Linked DNA regions of Homo sapiens. The protein of the gene in region 1 interacts with the protein of each later gene in a pairwise test. Each region holds a gene or a part of one and is shown on either strand. Other genes may lie near its edges.

Region 1 (3,904 bases):
GGACGGGGTCGGGGTGTTGGGAGTGTCAGGTGAGTTGCGGAAAACCCAGAAGCGACTTAACTGGGGGGTGATCCTATCTTTCGGGTGAAAAGGAGCGGCCCGAGGGTGCTCTGGGGTGCCTCAAGCAGGGGTGCCACGCTCGCATAAAGTAGACTGTGGGAACGTTCTGCGTCTACCCGCGCAGGAGGAGGACCCGGCGGATCCTGTTTCTAGGAGCTGTGTCTCCTCCTCCTGGATGGGATCCCTATGTTCAAAGGAAAATCGCTGGCTGGAAAATAAAGTGAATCGAAGCGAGGGTTCCTGGCCGGTGTGGGCTTTTCAACATTTCTACTCCGAGCAGATTCCTCCGCCTCGGGTGGATGACTCTGGGACTGCTCCCTTGGGAGGGCGTGTTCTAGTCTCAGCGCGGATTCAATTCGGAATCCCCAAGGCAGGAGCCGGACACAGTCTTCCAGCCCCCTTACCACCTACAACTGAGCCCGGGTGCCGTGCAAGCCCGGCAAGAGAGCTGCCAGCTGCTCCAAGCTCCTAGGAGGCACCCACTAAAGGGCGTCCTTCCAGGACATTGGCGGGGGAGGGGGGGTGGAGAGCGAGGAGAATGAGAGAAGGGGAATGGCATGGCCCTGGAATCCATTTCAATTCCACAACTTATATGGAACGCCACGCGCTACACTGGGCGCTGAGGAAAGGAACAGATAGAGAAAGCCACTGAACACTGCACTTCCTCTAGGCGCCCCCATTATATCACTCCATGGGAAACCCCTCGATCCACAAAAACGTGAACCTGGTCAAATGGCGTCTTATCTGACCCAATCTACTGATCCGCCCTGTGCCCAGCCCAAGCGTTGGCCGGACCCCAAGCACCTTTGCCTACCACCCCGTCCCGCGCCCCCGACCCCAGCCGGGTCCTGGCCCGGGAGCGCCTACCTTGCAGCGCAGCTCGCGTCCAGTGTGGATGCACAGCGCCCGGGACACATGCTCGCGCTCGGCTAGGGGCAGCAGCAGGTAGTCGGCGATGCGGCTGGGCCCCGGCGCGCTCCCGGAGCCTCCGCCGGCCCCCGGAGCGGCAGGCGGGGGCTGCGGGCTGCAGGGCGAGCCGGGGGGGCTGAGGTAGTCCGGGGGGCTGGAGCACTCGGAGAGGCGCGGGCACTTGGCCGCCACAGCCGCCGCGTCGTCGGCGTCCAGCAGGCGTTTGGCCGGGACGCCTCGGGTGGCTGGGAAGAGCAGGGCCGGGCCGCGGGGCTGCGAGGCGCCGCTCATGGCAGAGCGCACCGGACCGACCCGCATCCCGTCCTGGGCCGGGGTGGCCCCGGCTTTTTAAGTCCCGGGATCCGCGCGGGAAGACGCTGCGGGTTTGGTGCCGGCTCCGCGACTTCTTCCAGCCGGCGGGATGGAGTTTGCAGACTGGTCTTGGCTCGGCCCCCACGAGGGGCAAAGCAGGAGCCACTCCCCGGCGCTCGCGTTGCACGCGGGGACCACGCTGGCTGTGCGTCCGGGAGGCGGAGGCCGGCTCGAGTCCCCGGACCCCCGCAGGCAAGGGCTCCCGGAGCCTCGCTGGGGGCGGCCGCCACTATTGTTGCCGAGGCTGCCGATAGTCCGGGAGGCAGAGGCGGCGGCGGCAGCGGTCAGCGATCCCGGGGTCCCGAGCCGCGAGGACAGGATTCAGCAGGCTCGGCGGAGCCACGAAGCAAATGCACTTCCCAAAGCGATGAGTCTCCAGCAAAAGCCGGGGGAACTTTTTCGCGGCGCTCGGGATCCTGAGCGCTCCTGGGCTCCGGGCGTGTATGAGAGCGAGCGAGACGCGCTCAGAGAGAGTGACTGTGAGTGAGTGTGAGCGCTGCACCGATCCCGGCCAGTGCACTCCTCCTTCTCCTTTTCCTCCACCTCCTCCGCCTCCTGGTGACTCACGCTGTATACACACACACTCACAGGCCGGGCTGTGTAAACAGTTGGGAAGCCGGGTTGTGCAATGAGGTGGCTGCGACGACTCCGGCCCCGCCGCCCAGCGAGCAGTCTCCGGAGCGGAGGGAGGAGACTGGGGGAAGGGGAGAGGGAGTAGGAGGTGGGGGGAATGGGGGTGGACTTAGGGCTGGGGATGCTCCGGGCAGCGCGCGCTCGGGCGCAGGTGGTGCGTCCCGGGCCGGCCTGGACGCGCGCACACGCCCCCAGGGCTGGGAGGGGCTGGGCAGGAGGCGGCGCGCGCGCCCTCCCGCAGGCCCCCAGCTCAGCGGAGAAGCCGAAGGAGGGGGCGGAGGAAAAGTTCCCGTGACGTAAGGGCCCGGGGAAGTGGGCGGGAGGGACGGGGCTGCGGGGAGCGAAGCGACCGCTGATTGGTGCGCGCGCCTCATTCACAGTAAGCACAATGGGCTGCGGGCGCGAGGCGGGAGCGCGCACCACGGTTCTCTGCACCCGCCGCTCGCTGCAGCCCCGCGGCGACGCCTTTCGCCCCGGGGATCCCCCCACCGCCCAGCGCCTGGGGAGCTCCGGTTGGAGCCGTGGGCGCCGCCGAGGCCCGGCTGCAGCCGGAGGAAGGAGGGGGATAGGGAGGTGATGAATTCCAGAATCAGTCATTCACCCCCACGCGGTAGTTCCGGGGAAGACCTGTGCGTGGTAGTGGATGTGGCTTTTTTTTTTCCCTTTTCCTGCCCCCTCCCAGCTCTAATCCCCAGCGTCTGTTCGCTTCCACAAATAGAACCTTCTGTTGGAGGAAATAAAAGCAAACACTGGGCCTTCTGCGCTGCCTCCACCTCCACGCCCCCCCAACCCCCCCGCGCCTGCCGCCCGCCCGGATTGCACGGAAATAGCTTCTCCAGGCTCCCGGGCCGCCCCTTCGCGGTGACTCGCAGAAAGAGCTTCCTGAGCCAGGGCCGGTGGGAAACAAAGGATGTGGGGAGCGGGCGGAAGGGGCCCACGTGGCTGCCGCCGGATTCCTACTCCCTCCCCAGCCTCCACACGCGCCGCAGGGTCTAGGGCCTGAGTGCCAACCTGGGTAGGTGGGTAGGCTGGTGGAAGTCATTCTGGCCACTGCCAGAGATACCGCCTGCACCCGGGCAGCCCTGCCTGGTGGTGCGCATGCATTCATTCCGTGTGATTTGGAAGAGCATCAAAGTTGCGCGTGAAACAACTTGGAATCTGTCATTTTTCTTTCTTGAGTGAACCAGGTCAGTTTGGAGTCCCTGGGCACCCAACAATATAACTATTATTAGAGAGCCCTTACTTGTCCTTCTGCTAAATACTTAATTTTCTAAAACCAGGTCGAGCCCCAGGAATAAATCATTTTCCTTATTAATTCTCCATTCATTCAACAAATACTAATTAAGCATCTACCAAGAGCTAAACGCTGGGAATTAGAAGGTGAAAATTAAAATAATAATAATAGCTAACATGAATCGAGGCCTACAATGTGTCGGACACTGTTCTTAGCACTTTATATGTATTACTTCAGTTTTCCAACCACACTATGGGGTTATTTTTTGCCCCATTTCACAGGGAAGAAACTGAAGCCTTAGAAGGATGAAGTTAGGCCAAGCGTGGTGGCTCACGCCTGTAATCCCAGCACTTTGGGAGGCTGAGGTGGGCAGATCACCTGAGGTCAGGAGTTCAAGACCAATCTGGCCAACATGGTGAAACCCCGTCTCTACTACAAGTACAAAAATTAGCTGGGTGTGGTGGCGCGCGCCTGTAATCCCAGCTGCTGGGGAGGCTGAGGTGGGAGAATCACTTGAACCTGGGAGACAGAGGTTGCAGTGAGCCGAGATCGTGCCACTGCACTCCAGCCTTGGGGAGAAAGCAAGACTTAGTCTCAAAAAATAAAAAATAATAATAATAATAATTTAAAAAAAGAACGAAAGATGAAGTTACTTGCTGCGGTTAAGTAGCTCATAAGGGGTGGTGCGGTCAAGCT
Region 2 (3,904 bases), on another chromosome or scaffold:
TTGGAGAGCCAGCAAGAGTATGTCAGCGTGAGTGTGAGTGTGTGTGTGTGTGTGTGTGTGTGTCCCAGCGTTCTCCTCATGGTAGTGTCCTGATGACAGTTTCTCATTTCCTCTGGCTGGCACCTTTGGTTTCTATTCATTACTTCTTCTCCTCCTAGCTTTCTGTTCCTCCTCCTCTCCTTTGTTAAAATCCTGGATTTTCAATCAGCTGAGAGTCTCCTGGGGGTAGGAATGGTGGTGTCAGCGCAGAGTGATTCATCTAGCTGATAATTAGAGCTCTGGAAAACCCAGAACTCATTTTTGTCAGAGTCAGGGCTTCCGGAATCCCTAGGCTTTTTGTTTTGTCAGAGAGTGGAGCTTGCTGGGCTGGGGCCTTCTTTATGCCTGTCTTTTGGTCACCCACCTCATTGAAGCCCTTCAACTGAGATGAGTATGAGTGCTCGCTGGGTCTTGCAAAAAGCTGTTTCTATAACTCCGAGTCCTCACAGTGATCCCCCAAGCGTTATCCCTGTTTGGACAGAAGGGGAAGATTGGGCAATTTGCACATAGTCACCCAGCTTGTAAGTGATGCAGCAGGGATTCAAAGCCAAGTTTTTTGGAATCCATCAGACTTGATTTGAATCCTAGCCCTGCCATTATTAGCTGTGTGTGTTTGGGCACATTAATTTCCTTCTCTGAGCACTGGCTTCCTCAGCTGTAAACAGCCTCCTACCTAATACTGTCTCAAGTGCTCCATGCAGAGTGTGGCACAACGGTGGGAGCTGTCCTGATTACTCTTGTTAGTCAGCCCTATCAGCAGCTCAGTGGGCACCAGGCATTCAGAGACAAAGGACACAGGTAGAGGCAGCCAGACTTCACTCATATCAGCTCTTGTGTCCTGGCACTGCCTATGTGGAGATGACAAATGCACATACACACAAGTGGCCACACACCCTAGGAAAACCCAGCAGTGCACACAAGCTTAGACACGTGTGCCCACACATGGATATAGAGTGACCCAGGGGACAGCTGGAAAGACAGCCAAGAGTTAGACATCATAAGCAGCAAACACCCTGACTCACACCTCTGGGACAAGGGAGTGGGGCTACGGCCGCTGGTGCTGCTGCCACTGAGCCCTTCTAGCTGCTTCTGCATGCCAAGGGAGGGAAGCCAGGCTCTTAGAGGGCCCCAGTGAGTCACTTGCCTGATGCAATCCCTTTAAAGGGCTCATCTGCTGGTGCAAGAAGCTGATTCATGGAGGGCGTGGTTGCTGGAGGAGGAGGAGAAAGGGACCGAAACTGCAGCAGGAGGAACTGAGGTTAGATAGCTGTAGTCGCTAATAGGAACGCTTCACTGTAAACCTCCCTGGTCAAGGCTTCAGGGATCTCCAGGTTGAAGGTTGCCATCCTCGGGGTTTCTACAAAGGCGACAGACCTAGAGGGAAATGAATTATGAGCGCTGCGACAGGAATTTCTGTCTTTTATTGAGCCTAACTGCAGGGCTTTCCTCACAGAGTTCCACAAACCGGGAAATGAGGATCAAGGATGAGTCACTTTTCTGATAAATACACTACAATTGGCCGATCTTCCAACCGCTGGGGACTTCAACCTCGGCAGGGGGAGTGTAGGGCCCGCGAGGTTCTGTGGGGTCGGGCGGGGCGGTGCCTCCGTCCCAGCCTCGCCGCAGATATAGATCAGCAGTAAGTACCGCCCCATTAGAGCCTCGGCCTCCAATCGTGTAACAGGTTTCGCCCAGACCCCACCCTGAACCAATCCTCAATCGGACTCTGGCCTCTTGCCTGAAGTCTTCCGCCCATCGTCAAGATGGCGCCCCAATCCGAAAGCCGTGGGGCTGGAGACGCAGGCGGAGGGCGGGGCCCGGGGGGGCGGGGCCGCGGCTAAGGCTGGGGAGGAGGGGGGCGGTGCGTCACTTCCGTTGTCAGGTGGCGGCGCCGCAGCCATGGAGGGAGGCGGCGGCGGCGGCGGCGGCGGCTCGGGTGGCTGCGCTGGGAGGCGGCGGTGAGAGGCTCGCACGCCTCCAGCCCGGCCCCGGCCCCCCGGGAGGGAGAGCCGAGCAGCCCCGGCTCTGGGCTACGGACTATGGGCGAATAGCTCTGACCACCCGGCGAAGGTGAGGGCAGGGGTCCAGGAGCGGGGAGCCGGGTGGGGGTTGCGGGTAGGCGGGGCGGGCCCCGGCGGCCGCGGCGGTGGAATCGGAGTGACAGCCTGAAGCCATCTGAGTGCAGCAGAAATGGCCCCGGCGAATGCCCCCTCCTCCGCTGGGGCTCTGCCCTTCCCCGGCGGCAGGGGCGAGGGCTGCCTCGCGCCGGGTACCGGGAGGCCGCGGGAGCTTCAGTCCCCGCCGCAGCTCTGGGAAGTGGGCACTGCCAGCTTTGCCTAGAGTCACCCAGCCAGTGAGTGAAGCAACCGGCGTGTGAATCCAGCCAGATCTTTCCAAAAAGACACCTTCTGCCTCTCCGTGTTTCCCTCCTAATCCCGAGGGTGACTTGATAGTTAGAACGAGTCCCCAGGGAGGGCCAGCCAGGGCTTCCTCCAAGAGCCCTCACTCTGGCACGGGCGCTACCGCTGCTGGGGAATTTTCATATCCCGGGCGGCGTTCAGGTACGAGTCACAGCTACCTGCTTGCCAAGGCCACGTTTGGCCGGCCTTTTCCAAGGAGAGCTTGCTGTGGTCAGTGTTTCACCTGCCGAGCCGGTCAGGCCCGCCCATTCCCACGCCACTTGGCCCCGCCTTCCAGCCAGTTAGGTAGGGACATTCGGATTCCTGATGCCGAGTTTTCTGCCCACCCCAATCCCCAGGTTTGAAGCCCTTTTGTTAGCGGAAGGAAGAGATGACAGCCGCCCTCTGTGTGGCAGGATAGACTTTGCTCTGTTTTAAGTCACTGGAGGAAACCGGTTGGCTTTGCTTTGGTTTTGAGAACCAGTGGGGAAGAGGGTAGGCATACTGGGCTGGGCGCCTTTCCCTCTTTGAGTAGTTTTGCGTGAGATAAGGAAGAGCAGAATGTGTAATTGTAGGGCCAAAATAATCTTGTTTGTAAACAGTGCCTGTGAGCTCCTTTAGTGCTTCCTAATGGCCGTGCTGTGCAAGTTGTTGGTTGGGTTAATCTAGACAGTCCTCATTCATTCATTCATTCATTTCTCACATGACCACAACAAGAGTCCTTGCCTAGAGGCAAGTGCTAGACAGCATAGTGGTTAAGAGTAGGCTTTGGAGCCAGACTTCCTGAGTTCAAATTCTGGCTCAGCAACTTTCCAGCTGTGTGTACCTGGGCACATTGCTTAGTCTCCCTGTGCCTCAGTGTCTTCGTCTATAAAACAAGGATGATAACAGAGAGAGATATTATGAAGAGTAAAAAGTTAACATGTAAAACATACAACCATGTTTGCCACGTAATAAGAATTCAATAAATGTTATCTATTTTTATTTCAAGGAGCATACAGTCTAATTAAGGGAAATTGACCTGTAAACAAATGGTTGAAATGTGGTCTAAAGAAGCTAGTAGTGGCTGGGCGCCGTGGCTCATGCCTGTAATCCCAACACTTTGGGAAGCCGAGGCGGGCGGATCACCTGAGGTCAGGAGTTCGAGACCAGCCTGGCTAACATGGTGAAACCCCATCTCTACTGAAAATAGAAAAATTAGCTGGGCATGGTGGCACAGGCCTGTAATCCCAGCTACTCGGGAGGCTGAGGCAGGAGAATTGCTTGAACCTATGAGGCAGAGGTTGCAGTGAGCCGAGATCAAGCCAGTGCACTCCAGCCTGAGTAACAGAGTGAGACTCTGTCTCAAAAAAAAAAAAAAAAGAAGAAGAAGAAGCTAATAGCAGCAGCAAGAGAGTACTGTGGGAGCCCAGTGGAGAAAGGGAGAAAGCTGTGAGCTCAGCCTTGGGGGTGGGGTGGGGACGGGA

Evidence for each region.
Region 2: the proteins of TRIB1 (region 1) and STK40 interact in binary tests that used the Homo sapiens proteins (3 or more experiments, as listed by UniProt).

Annotation. Positions count from the first base shown.
Region 1 is NC_000008.11:125,428,286-125,432,189, reverse strand, and holds the start of TRIB1 (tribbles homolog 1), read right to left. Parts: upstream 1,833-3,904; 5' UTR 1,288-1,832; coding exon 928-1,287; intron 1-927. UniProt on the Homo sapiens protein: Adapter protein involved in protein degradation by interacting with COP1 ubiquitin ligase. The COP1-binding motif is masked by autoinhibitory interactions with the protein kinase domain.
Region 2 is NC_000001.11:36,383,928-36,387,831, reverse strand, and holds the start of STK40 (serine/threonine-protein kinase 40), read left to right. Parts: upstream 1-1,907; 5' UTR 1,908-2,109; intron 2,110-3,904. UniProt on the Homo sapiens protein: May be a negative regulator of NF-kappa-B and p53-mediated gene transcription.